Linked DNA regions of Homo sapiens. The protein of the gene in region 1 purifies or fractionates together with the protein of each later gene. This does not show direct contact. Each region holds a gene or a part of one and is shown in the gene's direction. Other genes may lie near its edges.

Region 1 (4,293 bases):
ATGCTTCCACAAGGCACTCCCCAGGGCCCCCAGGGCCTGTCACCTCCTACCTGAGGCTGCAGGACTGGGGCTGTGCATCCTTGGTCACCACTGCTCACTGTCCTGGGAGGCGGTCACCCCAGGCCCTGGCCACATTCATTTAGCCAGTCCCTGCCAGACAATGGCCAGTGTCCGAGTGCTGGCTGTGTAGGGCCTGTGCGGGGGGGTGGCAGTGTGGGCACATGGCCTCTGCAGAGGTAAGGGAGGTGCAGGGGGCCGTCTGCAGCTCGGCTGCCCTCCATATCACCCTCTCCTTCCCCCGCAGGTAAGAATGACGGTTCCATCGGCGGGAAGCAGTACTTCAGGTGTAACCCTGGCTACGGGCTGCTGGTCAGGCCCAGCCGGGTCCGCAGGGCCACGGGCCCTGTGCGGCGGCGCAGCACAGGACTCCGGCTGGGTGCCCCCGAGGCCCGCCGGAGCGCCACCCTCTCGGGCTCCGCCACCAACCTGGCCTCGCTGACAGCTGCCCTGGCCAAGGCCGACAGGAGCCACAAGAACCCTGAGAACCGGAAATCCTGGGCCAGCTGAGCCGCTGCCTTAGGGCGAACTTTTCTGGGGGTGCCCGGCCCCTTTTGAGCCCTGCCAGTGACAGCCCTGAGGAGCCAGGAGCCCGGTGGCCCCTTCCCCAGGGGCAGGGCGATGAATGCTTTTTGCACGACACAGGGCTGGTGACCTCCCTGGGCCTCTGGAAGCTTTGTTTCTTCTGTACCCGGGTAAAGTGGGGGCCTCAACTGTGCCTCCTCAGGTGGATGGAAGGTTCTGGGTGCCCGCAGGGGCTGGGGGATGCTAGGACTGAGACCCTGGGTGGTGCAGCGCCTGGTGATCTTGCTGTGTGCCTGTGCCTGGGGCCTTATGTTGCTCTTTCTATCATTTCCATTCTGGTGGCCCCACTAATGTCTTAACCTAAACCATAATTGTAACCAGTGCCTTTCCTCCCCACTGGAGGGCAAGCCCCCCCACCCACCCAGGATGTCCTGGCTCACTCCGCAAGCCCCCCAGCCTCCCACCCTGGTCCCAGTTTCCCGCAAAGTGCCTCTGGGGGACCCCCCAGCCTCCCACCCTGGTCCCAGGTTCCACAAGTGCCTCTGGAGGGCCCTGGGCTCTGGCAGATGGTCCTGGTGCCCCAGACGGGGGCCGAGGGCCTGAGCCCCCCCATCCCTCCTCTGCCAGGGTTTCTTAGCGGTTTCTCTGTGGATGTTTTGGCATCTTTAGACACCTGGAAAGTCTCTTATGTTTGCCGTTTATTCCCTTCACAGAAGGCTTGGAATGTATTTATTTATATTTATTTTTTCAAAATCCGAAATCATTTGCGAGCCGCAATCGTCGTCTGCCTGTGTGGGGGGGCCCAGGGCCTGCCTTGCACGTTGCAGCCTCTCTGGCCATTGCAGAGCTGCTGGCCTCCTGCCCAGGTGGAGGGTCCTGGGGACGGCAGAGGATAAAGCCCCCTCCTCACATCCCTCTATTGCGGATCCACAGTGGCCTTACTCTTAACTTGGATGAGAGCAAAAACCTGGGAGAATGATGTGCTTCTGTAGTCGGTGACAAAGGAAGAGGCATTGCTACTTTATTTGGTGCACTTTTGGTTTCTAGGAAGGTCTTTGGGTCATTTTAACTTCTCGGCAACTCCCAGACTCTCAGAGTGTGGGGCTGGGGCCTGGCGGCTGGGCTGGTGCAGGGAGTGTGCTGGTTAGTCTCCAGACCCTCACAGCAGCCACGCCCCCAGGCCCACCGTGCATGGTGTGGGCGGGACAGCCGGAAGCTTCCGGGGTGGCCTCCACCTCCTGGCTGGGGCACTTATGCTCCCAGAGCCTTTGGTGCCAGGTTTGTGGGATGGGGGTTAGCGTCTATGTGTGGAAGGCCACCAATCTAGGGACAGGAGTCCTGGGTCAAGATTCACACAGCCACCCTTGGAGCTGGTTTCTAGTTCTCACATTTAGTCAACATCTAGAAAGCGCTGCGGAAGGCTCTGGTTCTCTAGGGACTTGAAGGCGCCAACAGAGTAGTCTCCATGGTGGGCCTGTCCCAGCCCTGGCTGCGAGGACAGGTTGTCTTTCTCTCCCCAGTTGGCGAGGGACACGAAGGCTGCGGCCGGGCTGGCAGAGGGCCCGGCCCCTGGGGGGAGGCACTCCTCCAGGGCTCTCCCTGTCCTTAGCCGATTTTGAGGGAACCCTGTGGCACCTGTCCCTGGATGAAGAGCTGTCACCTCTGCCTTGCCCTTTAACTCAACCCGCTTCCCAGCACAGCGGCTTTCTTTTTAAAACCTGTTTCACTGAGAAGTTTGTTTTTGGGTCCGCTGGTGTCACTATGGCCTGGGTGAGAGGCCAGCACTGCTGCTGCCCTGAGGGGAAACGCCTGGGCCGTGTAGTGGGGACGCTCTGGGAATGGTGGCGGACGGGCAGCGTGGGTGGGACCTGGCACTTCGTGGTGGCTGAGCCATCCACCCAGCAGCGGCCTCCTGTAGCACCATCTTGGGAAAGTCCTGGGGGACGTGTGTGTCGTGCTTTTTACCATCGGTTTGACTTACAGTGGAGTAGAACGAGCCAGAGTTCCTGACTTGAGCAGGTGGATTTGGGCCCAGGCCCTGTTCACTCTTGCTTCTCGGTGCGGACTAATGTCAGCTTGTGGCTGGGAAAGAGGGATGTGCAGTGACGTGGTCACCAAGGCAGTGAGCCCCGCTGACCCCGGGCCAGCACTTGGCAGGCAGGAGGTGCGGTCTCCAGAGTGGTGGGCCAGGGCGGGCTGGCCTCCGTCTTCTATCTTCTTTTCTTGCCTCCCTGACCAGCAGACTCACCTCCCAAGAACGCCTGCCCGCCCACCCGCCTTAGGACTCCCGATGCGCTCCTGGAAGGCCCCAGGAGTGGCACCTTAGTGTGGGTCGGCCCGCAGATGGCACCCAAGGCCGGGAAGGGCAGTAACTGCACACGCGGCGCTGTCAGAGATGGGGGTGGGGGATGCTTCTGGGGGCCCTGCCTCCCCATTGTGTGCCCAGAACATCCCTGGCCCCACCCCGCCACTTCCCTCGGGCCCTTATGAAGGACTGAGGCTCCAGGGTGAGAAGGCTCACTTCTGCCCCGGGCACTGCGTCCAGCAGCAGAGGGGACAGGGGGCAGGTGTGTGACTGGGTTCCTGGGTACCCAGGCCTGACCAGAGGGAGCGGGAGGGCAGAGGTGAGGAGGGGGAAGATGTTTCTGGGCCTACCAAGGTTCAACAAGAGAACGGAGCTGGGAATGTGACTGCTGGAGCCTGAGAGGTGGAGGAGTTCTGATCCCCCGTTACTTCCTAGCATTTTCTCCTCTTGCCTTAAAAGTTCCCTGTATGTGAAACGGGAAGTCCTGAGAGTGTGTGTTGGTGGCTGTGCGCACGCACACAAGACGGGAGTCACCCTGTGCTTCCTGCCCAAGATACTGACCCATTGAACCCCCAAAGCATCTTTCTCTCCACAAAGTCCGTGGTGCCTTCCTGGTGGGCTGCAGACACTAATGGTGTTGGGGGGTCTTGGAACAGCTTCTCTATGTGTGGATTCGTGTAAATGCGAAGAGTTCACATATAAAGAAGTGACTTTGATTCTGTGATTATATTGATTTGGTACACAGTAAATGGGAGTTTAAAAAATCCAAAGACTCTAATGACTTGTAAAGACTCTAATGATTTGTATCATGTAATGAACTAAACCACCTGTAATTTTGTACCGTATGTGTCTTTCCATCAAATGACCAACAGCTTCTCAATAAAACCAGACCATTTCTCACCTGCATCATGTCTGAGGCCAGTCTTGTTGCTTCTCCTTCCCCTCACCCCAACATAGGGTTTTGGGGCTCCTGGCAGGCCATCCTGTCATGGTGTGGCCTTGTTCTCAGCAAAGGTGGTGCGGGGCTTTTCCAGACTGAGACTGGGAGGAGGAGGATCAGGGAACAGCAGCAGGCCGTGCTCGCCTCCCCAGCCCATGGACTTCAGAGGCTGAACTCTTCATGATTTGGACTTAAGAGCCCAGGAGGCCCCCCGGTTCTGAGTCATCTTTCCTTGTTTGGACTTCAGCCCCTTACTGAAGCCAGGAACCATGGAAACTTTCTGGGGCCCTTCGACCCCAGGTAAGTGGTGCTACTGGGAGACAGGTGACCTGGTAGGGACTCTCCTTGGCTCTCAGGCATGACTCCACTGTCTGCTGTGACCTTCGTGTTGGTCCCCACACTGGACCTCCCCTCTCCCCTCAAACTGGGGTGAGAGGACTTCTTTCCCCTGCTGCAGAGGTGGGCA
Region 2 (3,500 bases), on another chromosome or scaffold:
TCATTTCAGCTATAATACTTGTGAGGCCCAGGTGGGCAGATCACTTGGGCCCCAGGAGTTCAAGATCAATCTGGGCAACATAGTGAGATCCCATCTCAAAAAAAAAAAGTGATTAGAGAATACCCTGGTGAAACTGTTGATAATGAGTTTTAAGTGTCTGGCCTATTTATAGCTGAAGAGAATATTGTATGTTACCATTAACTTTGTGATAAATGCCTCTCTGGTCACCAAAACTAAAGAAGACTATCTGTCTTTGTTCTAAATCTGCCTGCATAAACCTGTTTGTTACTTTTTGTTGTTGTTGTTTGCTACATATTTGAGAATATCACCTCTACTATCCAAAAATACTAGCACAGTTCTTGTTAGTATATTATACATATAAATAAATGTGTCCATCAGTGCCCATTCTTTTAAATACAGTTCTTCCCATCACTATTTGACAGCCACAATATAATAAAGATCCTCCAAGTAAAAAAACTGATTTACTCCAGGCTGGGCGCGGTGGCTCACGCCTGTAATCCCAGCGCTTTGGGAGGCCAAGACAGGCGTATCACGAGGTCAGGAGATCGAGACCATCCTGGCCAATATGGTGAAACCTCGTCTCTAGTAAAAATACAAAAAAATTAGCGGGGCATGGTGGCGGGCACCTGTAGTCCCAGCTACTCAGGAGGCTGAGGCAGAAGAATGGCGTGAACCCGGGAAGCGGAGCTTTCAGTGAGCCAAGATCGTGCCACTGCACTCCAGCCTGGGCGACAGAGCGAGACTCCGTCTCAAAAAAAAAAAAAACAAAAAAAAAAAACAACAAACTGATTTACTCCAAACAATGTTTATAAAAACGAGAAACTATGTAGGAAAATGAGTGAGCTTCTAGACCCTATGTCATCTAAATTTGTATATTCTCTGGTCAGTGGTGGCAGAGTTGAAAACCCACTAAACTTAGAAGCTGTTGACTCTCCTAAAGAGGAAATCCAGTCTGCCAGAAACTCTTTTTTTTTTTTTTTTTTTTTTTGAGACAGAGTCTTGCTCTGTCACCCAGGAATGTGGTGGCGTGATCTGGGTTCACTGTAACCTCCGCCCTCCTGGGTTCAAGCAGTTCTCCTGCCTCAGCCTCCCGAGTAGCTGGGATTACAAGTGCCTGCCACTGCACCCAGCTAATTTTTGTATTTTTAGTAGAGACAGGGTTTCACCATCTTGACCTGGCTGACCTTGAACTCCTGACCTCATGATCCACCCACCTTGGCCTCCCAAAGTGCTGGGATTACAGGCGTGAGCCACCACACCCGGCCTCAGAAACTCTTTTTAACAATAAAAAGTTGTTTGACGGTTTGGCCACATAGACTATGTAAACTTTGGAGAACTCATGGAAGTAAGCTTTATTCCTGATCTTACAGACATCTTAGGGGTAGGTTTTGGTGTTTGAAAGGAAAGGAGAATGGCATGAGTGCTATCCATAAAGTTTGGATTAGAAGAGGCCTTAGAGTCCAAGCCTCGTTTATGTGAGAGTCCCTTCCATTACCACCCCCGACAGCTTCTGCTTTCAGCAGTGGTGAGCTTTATAAAATTACCTGTTCTGGCTGGGCGCAGTGGCTCACGCCTGTAATCCCAGCACTTTGGGAGGCTGAGGTGGTCAGATCACTTGAGGTCAGGAGTTCAAGACCAGCCTAGTCAACATGGTGAAACCCTGTCTTTATTAAAAATACAAAAATTAGCCGGGCATGATAGTGCATACCTGTAATCCCAGCTACTAGGGAGGCTGAGGCACGAGAATCGCTTGAACCCGGGAGTCGAAGGTTGCAGTAAGCCGAGATCGCACCACTGCACTCTAGCCCGGGTGACAGAGTAAGGCTCTGTCTCAAAAAAAAAAAAAAAAAAAAAAGAAAAAGAAAAGAAATATTCTTCTCTTAAACCAAAATAATCACAGAATCACAGATCCTAGTCTGGGTCAGGGAAGAGTTAAATACCAGCATGGCCAAGTCAGGCAACATGTCAGGAGGTAGGTGGAAAACAGGCCGTGTGACAGATCCTTTATGAAGATGGATTCAGGCTGATGTGGCCTATATTTGAGCATTAAATAAACAATTCATGTTTGGTCTTATTCTCATATCCCATACCAGTCTTTCAGTCTACCATGAAGCTCATGATGCTACATTTGTTTTAGAAGTAATAGTCTTATTAAGAGCTATAATTATGAATCTAGATAGAAAAACTACATGTTACCTTAAAGCCACATTTTCCAAACAGGAATTCTACCTCAGAGTAAAATTCTATAGTCAAATAAAATTTGAGAAAATCTATAGGCCTGCCCTTCTTGGAGAATCACAATAAATTTTAGCATGCTTAAAAATCAACTGGCCAGTTGTGGTGGCTCATGTCTATAATCCCGGCACTTTGGGAGGCTGAGGTGGGAGGATTGCTTGAGGCCAGGAGTTTGAGACCAGCCTGGGCAACATGGTGAGACCTTGTCTGTACAATAAAAAAATAAATAAAACAAACAAACAAAAATTCAATGGGTGGGTTGTGGTAATTCATGCCTTTAATCCCAGTATTTTGGGAGGCTGAGGCAGGAGGATCACTTGAGACTAGGAGTTTTGGGACCAGCCAGGGCAACATATCAAACTCCATCTCTACAAAAATAATAATAAAACTCAAGGATTCTGTTTTTTCTTTTTTTTTAAGTCGGTTTAATATTGTTTAACCCAGTATTTTTAAATAAAAAAGCCATCTCTGTTCACCTCTTCCCCACACTCTAATGAGAGCTCCTGTGCAGGCTGGGTTTTTTGTTTTTTAAAACAGGGTTTCACTATGTTGCCTGGGCTGGTCTCAAACTCCTGGGCTCAAGTGATCGTCCTGCCTCAGCCTCACAAAGTGCTAGGATTATAGGCATGAGCACTGTGCCTGGCCTGAATGAATCTTAAAAAAAACAAAAAAAGTTGCTTTATTAAAATTTATTATTCAAGCTTGAAAGCTTGAAGAAAAATATAGGAAATAATAAAATATGTATGTGCTTACCACCCAGCTTTCAGTTCCTAATATTTTGCTGTAATTGTTTCAGATCTTTCTTTACAAGGGAGAAGGGGGTGTTCTTAAAAACTGAAAGCCCACTTAGTGATTTTTTTTTTTTTTTGGAGTCAAGGTCTCACTCTGTTACCCAGGCTGGAGTGCAGTAGTGTGATCTCAGTTCACTGCAGCCTCTACCTCCCAGACTCAAGCAGTCCTCCCACCTCAGCCTTCCAAATAGCTGGGACTACAGGCGTGTACCACTACGCCCAGCTAATTTTTGTATTTTTTGTAGAGACGGGGTTTTGCCAAGTTGCCCAGGCTAAGTTGGTGGTTTTTAAAAGGGAGAATAAGGGAAACCTTTTATTTGCTTATAGTGTTACTAACTTTTAAGGATTCACCAAGACCTCTATTTTCAAGAACTGACTTTGTCCTTGCTAGCCCAGTGTCAATCCAAACTTTCCACAGAGGATTTGTTCAACTATGCAGCCTTCCTGTGTCTT

The links. Proteins that work in one complex are often made in the same cells at the same time.
Region 2: the proteins of KIF13B (region 1) and DCP1A purify together in Homo sapiens (affinity purification with mass spectrometry, with the first as the bait; one large-scale study listed by BioGRID). This does not show direct contact.

What each region holds. Positions count from the first base shown.
Region 1 is NC_000008.11:29,066,778-29,071,070, reverse strand, and holds the end of KIF13B (kinesin-like protein KIF13B), read left to right. Parts: intron 1-304; coding exon 305-567; 3' UTR 568-3,793; downstream 3,794-4,293. UniProt on the Homo sapiens protein: Involved in reorganization of the cortical cytoskeleton. Regulates axon formation by promoting the formation of extra axons. May be functionally important for the intracellular trafficking of MAGUKs and associated protein complexes.
Region 2 is NC_000003.12:53,313,044-53,316,543, reverse strand, and holds part of DCP1A (mRNA-decapping enzyme 1A), read left to right. Parts: intron 1-3,500. UniProt on the Homo sapiens protein: Necessary for the degradation of mRNAs, both in normal mRNA turnover and in nonsense-mediated mRNA decay. Removes the 7-methyl guanine cap structure from mRNA molecules, yielding a 5'-phosphorylated mRNA fragment and 7m-GDP.